2 linked regions of the Homo sapiens genome follow. The protein of the gene in region 2 purifies or fractionates together with the protein of the main gene of each other region. This does not show direct contact. Each region holds a gene or a part of one and is shown on either strand. Other genes may lie near its edges.

Evidence for each region. The genes of interacting proteins can lie anywhere in the genome.
Region 1: the proteins of ABITRAM (region 2) and ZHX2 purify together in Homo sapiens (affinity purification with mass spectrometry; 2 studies listed by BioGRID and IntAct, with this or other methods). This does not show direct contact.

The regions. Positions count from the first base shown.
Region 1 is NC_000008.11:122,952,558-122,956,311, reverse strand, and holds part of ZHX2 (zinc fingers and homeoboxes protein 2), read right to left. Parts: coding exon 2,288-3,754; 3' UTR 2,284-2,287; exon of another isoform or gene 775-2,283; intron 1-774. UniProt on the Homo sapiens protein: Acts as a transcriptional repressor. Represses the promoter activity of the CDC25C gene stimulated by NFYA.
Region 2 is NC_000009.12:108,932,256-108,936,009, reverse strand, and holds the start of ABITRAM (protein Abitram), read right to left. Parts: upstream 1,611-3,754; 5' UTR 1,524-1,610; coding exon 1,445-1,523; intron 373-1,444; coding exon 321-372; intron 1-320. UniProt on the Homo sapiens protein: Actin-binding protein that regulates actin polymerization, filopodia dynamics and increases the branching of proximal dendrites of developing neurons.

The DNA of each region.
Region 1 (3,754 bases), on a different chromosome or scaffold from region 2:
CTCATGGCACTGTTTCTAGCTCCTGGAGTAGCAGCAGGCATACAGTAGGTGCTCAGAAGGTACTGTTGAATGGAACTGAACCCTATTGTCCTCTCTGGGGTGGGAGGAAAAAGCAACCATGTAGACACGTGTCATGGATGGGAAAAGATCAAGGATAGAAGATGGGAGGTCGGGCGTGGTGGCTCACGCCTGTAATCCCAGCACTTTGGGAGGCCAAGGTGGGTGGATCATCTGAGGTCAGGAGTTTGAGATCAGCCTGGCCAACACGGCAAAACCCCGTCTCTACTAAAAATATGAAAATTAGCCGGGTGGGGTGGCGCATGCCTGTAATCCCAGCTACTCGGGAGGCTGATGCAGGAGAACTGCTTGAACCCAAGAGGTGGAGGTTGCAGTGAGTTGAGATCGTGCCATTGCATTCCAGCCTGGGCAACAGAGTGAGACTCTGTCTCAAAAAAAAAAAAAAAAAAAAAAATCACTCCCTCATTTTAATGAGGGAGGTATGGGCTAGACTGGTAGGTTCTTCTAAGGTGGGAGAATGGCCAGAGGTGGCCAGGTAGAGGTGGGAAGTTGCTGTCATTGTGACCTCAGTACACTTCTATCCCCTTCCTTTCACTCACGCCCTCCCCTTTGGGTTGTGCCCACACCCTTGACACACAGGCATTTCCTCCTGCAAGTGGGAGGAGAAAGGAGAATGGAACATGATGGCATTCTGGGATTGGCTGCTCGTTAAAGTGCTCTTTTAATAGCGGATGGAACTGGCTAAAACAAGGTTTCTAGAGAATTTCATTTATTTGTCAGCTGCCTCATTTTATTAGTGAATCAATGAGTTAATGAGCGACGTGGTCAGCCAAAGTTGTCCAAGTTCATTAAGACAGAGGTGTGGTAATTTCCAGGGCTGCCTTTGGGACCTTATCAATCATTCTGGAGGTTCTTACCTTTATTTTATATTTTGTAAAGATAACTTGGGAGGCCCATTCCGTGGTATTTTAAGTGACCTCTGGAGAAGCCTACCTGGGCAAATCGTGCATCTTCCTCCTTGTAATATTTGCTTTCCCTCCCACCAGCCCTCCCCCTGCCACTGCCCCCATTTCTCAACTCACCACCAAGCTGCTGTGCTTCAGGCCTCGATTTGCACTGACCTCTTAGGAAGCAGAATACCAAGGGCTTCAGTGGCATGTCCCATTATGGGGATGACATGGCCATTAGTAACCATGGAAACCGCCCTGCCACCCCCCCCCCCCCGGCTTATGTGACTCTACAGGCCTAATTTACACCCGGCTCTTCCAGATTTGAAGGGGTTATGGGGACCCAAGCACAGTGGCACCTTCCTTTTGCCCTGACAAGGCAAATATCAAGCACTTTCAAAGCCTTTTCAGATTAGAAGAAATAAGCTCAGGTCTTTGATTCAGTAAACTTGGATATGTATTCTTAAAAAATCCAAAAAGAAAAGGGGGGAAAAAAAAAAAGAAACAACCTCTTCATGTTTGGTGTTTTTACAGCAACAAACACAAAACACACAGAGGGAGGATGTGTTTTCTAACAGTCAAAACTAACCTTCAGAATGGACAGGCCTGAAGGCTGGAGCCCAAACAGGCCACAGCCAGCGGTGCTGCCCCCTGGGCACAGCCTTACAAATGAGGACGTAGGTTCCATCAGCCCCCATTTTTCTTCTTTTTTCAAAGAACCTTTACAAATAACTCATCAGCCGGGCTCAGTGGCTCATGCCTGTAATCCCAGCACTTTGGGAGGCAGATGCAAAGGAATTCCTTGAGTCCAGGAGTTTGAGACCAGCCTGGGCAACAAAGTGAGACCCCGTCTCTACCAAAATATTAAAATATTAGTTGGGTGTGGTGGCAGATGCCTGAAGTCCCAGCTACTTGATAAGCTGAGGGGGGAGGATCGCTTGGGCCCAGGAGTTTGAGGCTACAATGACCTATGATCGAGCCACTGCACTGCAGCCTGGGTGGCAGAGCAAGACTCTGTCACTAAAAACAAAACAAAACAAAACACCAAAACCAAAACCAGACCCTTCCACTACAAGAATAAGTATGTGAGGTAATGCATACGGGAATCAGCTTAACTGAGCCATCCCACTAGGTAAACATATTTCAAAACATCATATTGTATGTGATCAATATACATCATTCTTATTTGTTAATTACAAGAAAAAGACGCCACCATCTGTGTCAACATCTCTGTACCCTACAATCTATATTAACCCTGGCAACGAAAAGAAAGCAAGCTGCGTTCTCCCCTGCTGCCTGGGTGAGCAGGTGGAATTACCTGTCTAGGCCTGGCCAGCCTCTGCAGGGACGCAGTCGGAGTCTGATTCAGCCAGTTCCGACACACCTTCTGCCGCAGCCTGACTCCAGCTATCTGATCTATCTGAGATCGCATCCTCCTCCCCGACCGTCACCTCCACGTAATCCACAACGCTCGACTCCTCGTTCTCGTCGCTACCCTGGCCGTCCCGGCTGCTGCCCTCTGACCGGTCTGAGGTGGCCTCTGAGGGCTTTGCTGGCAAACAGTCTTTTGCTGGCTCGCTGCCTACTTTTACCCTGGTCACCAACTTCTCCAAGTCCTCTTCGCAGAGCTTTTTGGGGTCCTTGTAATATTGTGGAACCACATCACCCCCGTTCTTTGGGCTCTCGGCCATGGGTTTTGTTGCTTTCCTTGCTACGGCATCGTAGCCGTGATCATCTGCCATGGGCTGGTGCTGGTACTGCTCCATCCACTTCACGGTTCCCGTTTTCAGCAAGCATCTGTTCTCCTTGAACCAACGCACAATCTCAGTTCGGACCAGGCCAGTCTTGGCCGCTAACTGGTCGTACTCCTGGGGAGTAGGCCACTGGGTTCTTGCAAACGTGCTCCTCAGGAGATGAACCTGTTCTTGACTTTTTGCAATTGCTGGCGAAGGGCTGGGCAGAGAACTTGTTAACTGGGCACCGGAGAGCTGGTCGAGTCGAGACAGAGCACCATTGGGGGCTCCCACATCTTGGCCTTTTTTGCCAGACCCCATGGAATCCAAGACAGCTTGTTCCATGCTGTCTCGAAGCTTCCGCCTCTCCGAGAACCAGGAGTCGATCTCTCTCCTGCTCAGCTTGGTCTCCACCCTTAGCCGATCCAGTTCTGCTTGGGTAGGAAAAGAACTTTTCAAAAAGCTGTCTTCCAAGATTTTAACCTGACCCTGTGTTTTCTCTTTGAACTTCTGGGGGGCAAAGTCTGGGTACGCATGATACGTGCGACCGTGTCGGGAGGCCGCGATGGCCAACTGGTCTTTGGCAAGGGATTCGCTGGTGATGTGGACGATGCCCCTTTGACACCGATATCGGTGGTCACTGAACCACTTCTTGATCTCGCTCCTGGCAAGGCCAGTCACCTCGATGAGCCGGTAAACCTCGGCATCGTCAGGGAACTGGCTCTGGAGAAAGCTGGCCTTGAGATGTGCTATCTGCTCCTTTGTCTTCTTGCGGTCACTGGCTGGTGTGAGCGGGGGGTTGGCCACCTTGGGTGGGGGCTCTGGCACCTGAGCGATGTGTGGACGCTTGGGTTCGGGGGCAGCTTGGGGAGTCACCAAGGGTCTCTTCTGGCCATGGTTGGTGACTCCTGCCACGGCAAGTGTGATGGGGGAGCAAGAGACGGTTGTTGACCCGCTGGTCACCTGAGTCAGCACCAGGCTAGTCTGGCCGAGGATCTGGCACGGTAGAGCCGTCTGGAGGATGGGCTGCGTCACCTTTGTGGGGGCCAACTGGGC
Region 2 (3,754 bases):
GTCTCTACCGTAGCCCTTTCTGTGGGCTCTGAACAGTTCAGTAGTTGGGCACAGACTGGCCACTTCAAGTAGCAGCTGATGATGTGGTCCTCCATTTGGATGTTTGAGTAATCAAATTTATATGTTCAGAGTGGCCAGGCACTGGAATACTCATTCTTGCCAAACAAACTCCTATAATAATACCATTTCAACACAGTAGAAGATAATTAATGCATGTTTGTTTAGTGAACATTTGTTCAATCCAAGACCACAAGACCATACCAGGCTACAATACCAGGAAAAAAAAATTTTTGATAATTTAAAATTCCCAATTTGCTTACCGGTTAGAGTGCTGTAGTATACAGTGGTCCTCACAAAATTTTCCTTTGACATCTAGAAGAATACATGAGTCTGTTGGTGGCTGAAATCAATATTTACTACCACTATGTGGTACTTTCTTTGGGTCATATAGTTGATAATGAAGACTGGACACATACATGCTGCATGCTGATCACGGGTATCCCTTCATTACTCAAAAAGACATACCTAAAGGTTTCCTAGAAAGTATTTAAAGAGATCTGGCCCAGATAGAATAATTTATTCAACATTAAGGTAATTAACTCCTTGCTCCATCTTACTTTACACTCACTTCAAAATGAGTACACGTAGTATTTTTGCTAGGAAAATGCAATTAGCATCCCGTTCTTTATGATATATATTTTTTGTTGGTGGTTTCCAGGACTGTCCTGATGTTGGTGCAAGTCCGACATTCTGGGAAACCCCTCAGTCATGGGTGAACTAGGACAGGTTGGTCACCCTATGTTTGGCCAACAGAAAATATGCTACAATATATATTTTTTAAACTGAGTATAACCATTATCACTGAATGAAAGGAAGAAAGGAGAGTCCCCAACGATGCTCCCACCACTGGTTCTGCTTACACAAAACAGTACAAAAAGAATACCTACTTCTAAGTGGCAGATGGCGTCTCTTAAGGTAAATGTATAGATTCTTCTTCTTTCTAAATGTCTCTAATCTAACCCACCCTCTTCTCGCCATCCCTACTGCCTCTACCTTAGTTTCGATCTGATCATTTAAATAATTTTATGTATCGCTACTCCCTGTGAGAGTGAGCCCCTCAATCCCTCCAGGCACTTAAGGACTGTTGCAACCTAGCCCTCCGCCTACCTTTGGGGCCTCCGTTTAGAGTACTCATCTTACTGCGAGCAACACCCTAGAGCTCGCACTGCAATCGCCGGCCCCAGAATGCGCCCTGAAGTATTTCAGGCCACCAGGTCTTTGCAAATGCCATTCCCTGGGGCTAGACGGAACACAGAAGTCCAGTGCCTTCTGACGTGGGGACGGAGAGCCAGGGAGAGCGCGCGTGGCTTATGATCTGTCAACATAGTCTACACAGCATTAGGCCAGTGCGGCCAAGGAGGGATCAACATCACTCCGCACTTACCCGGTTTGTACCAGCGAGTGAAGTATCGATCCACGAGCGAAGGCACCACCGGCTCCGCGGCTTCGGGCTCGGTAGCCATGGCGACCTCCGGCGCCGCCACCCCCGCCCTCCGGGACCCCAGCGCTTCCTCCGCGCAGCCCGGACTGGGCGTGCTCTTCCGGCGCACAGCGCGTGTCGTGCGCACGCGCGCTGCTCTCAGGTCCGCAGGTTCCACCCCCCCCCCCGCCCCCCCCAATTACAGTGCTTTGGGGTTCGACATCAAAACAGAGATCAAATACAAAAGTTTGGGCAGATGGGCAAGAGGGCAGAGGGACAGGGGACGCGGCCAATGTAGCTCCTCTACCTCTACGGTGCCAGGCCTACAAAGAAGGCCGGCCGCCGTAAGTGACCAGAAGCGGGCCCGGCCTCGCCCCCTCCGCCTGGTGACGTCACTCCCGCGCCGCACTCCCAGTGCTGCGGCTGCCTAGTTGACGCACCCATTGAGTCGCTGGCTTCTTTGCAGCGCTTCAGCGTTTTCCCCTGGAGGGCGCCTCCATCCTTGGAGGCCTAGTGCCGTCGGAGAGAGAGCGGGAGCCGCGGACAGAGACGCGTGCGCAATTCGGAGCCGACTCTGGGTGCGGACTGTGGGAGCTGACTCTGGGTAGCCGGCTGCGCGTGGCTGGGGAGGCGAGGCCGGACGCACCTCTGTTTGGGGGTCCTCAGGTAAGCGATCCATCCAGGGTAGGGGCACGGGAGTGGACCTCTCCGCCGGCGGTGTCCGGGTGAAGGAGACCCGGAGCCTCCTCTGCCTGCTGCGGGCCGGGGACTGGAGTGCGGGCTGCACCACCTCTTTCCTAGAGCCTTAAATTCTTTTTGCAGCCTTGCCACCTGCTCCATCGGGGGCGCTGGGAGGCGCGACAGCCCAGGGATGCCTGCTGCCCCTCCAGCCGGACTTAACCCAGCCTCTTGATTGCTTGCAGGGGGTTGATAATAACGCTGAAAGCGAGAGTATTAATTCACGATGGAAGGCGGCGGTTAATAGAGGCTCGGGTGCTGTGGTGCGGGTCCTTTCTCGCGTGTGAGACTTTTTCGTGGAGGTGGTGTCCTCTGTGCTTCTCCATCTAACGTGGTGTTTTACGTGGCTTTCTCTCCCGTTAACGATGATCTCCGTGGAGACAGTGGCTGAGTAATCTTCAGATCCCAGTACTTAGCAAGTGCTCAGTCGGTGTTGGATGTAGGCCACAAACCGGATCGTAAAGAATTCAACTGTATATTGACAGCCACGGAACTAATCAATGAATAGATCCGTATGAAGAGTAAGCAAAAAGGCAGCAAAGACAGTTTTTCAGCTTGGGGACATAGAGTAGAAATGGTCTGTCCCCAAATAGTGGGAACTGTCATTTGGGGGAAGAATAGCAAGTTCTTTGCTTTCCAGGTCGCATTTGATGTGCATGTGAGACATGCTTGTGATTCTATCAGGAGGTTGAAAATGTGGGTTTAGTGGTAAGTTTGGGCTAATTCAGTCAGGGCTAGGCATTTAGGCCTAATCAGCGTATTGGTGATCTACCTGGTATATGTAATCATGCATGTGATGTCTAGCCAAGAGGTGGATAGTCGAAGGAGCAAGGGAAGAAAATGAAGCAGTTATCAGGAAATTAAGAGAGAATCCACGATTGACCTTTGGTGTGGAGGGATCTTTAGCACATTTAAGAACTGCGAAGAGTTTGAATCAGTGGAGGCAGGAAGGTTGGAGGTTGCAGATGTCCAAGAAAGAGTACTAATAGGCCTAGGTCCTGTGGCAATATGGAGGATATTCCTTTCCTAGCCTGGAAAGAAGTGGAGGGAAGTCTTCCTCCGAGAAGATAAGGGAATAAGGCTGATGGGTGTGAAATTTCAGAGAAACTAGTTTTGAGGCGTTTTTATGATGTTTAAAGATGAAAAACGCAGCCAGGCACGGTGGCTCAGGCCTGTAATCCCAGCACTTTGGGAGGCAGAGGCGGGTGGATCACTTGAGGTTAGGAGTTCAAGAACAGCCTGGCCAACATGGTGAAACCCTGTCTCTACTAAAAATACAAAAATTAACTGGGCATGGTGCCGGGCGCCTGTAATCCCAGCTACTCCGGAGGCTGAGGCAGGAGAATCGCTTGAACCCGGGAGGCAGATGTTGCGGTGAGCCGAGATCGCGCCATTGCACCCCAGCCTGGGCAATAAGAGCGAAACTCCGTCTCAAAAAACAAAAAAACCTGCATGATATGTTAGAGGTTCAAGTAATTTCTAGCAGTTCTTGAATATAATTGTCACCAAAACTTACTAAAATCATTGTCTTCCTCA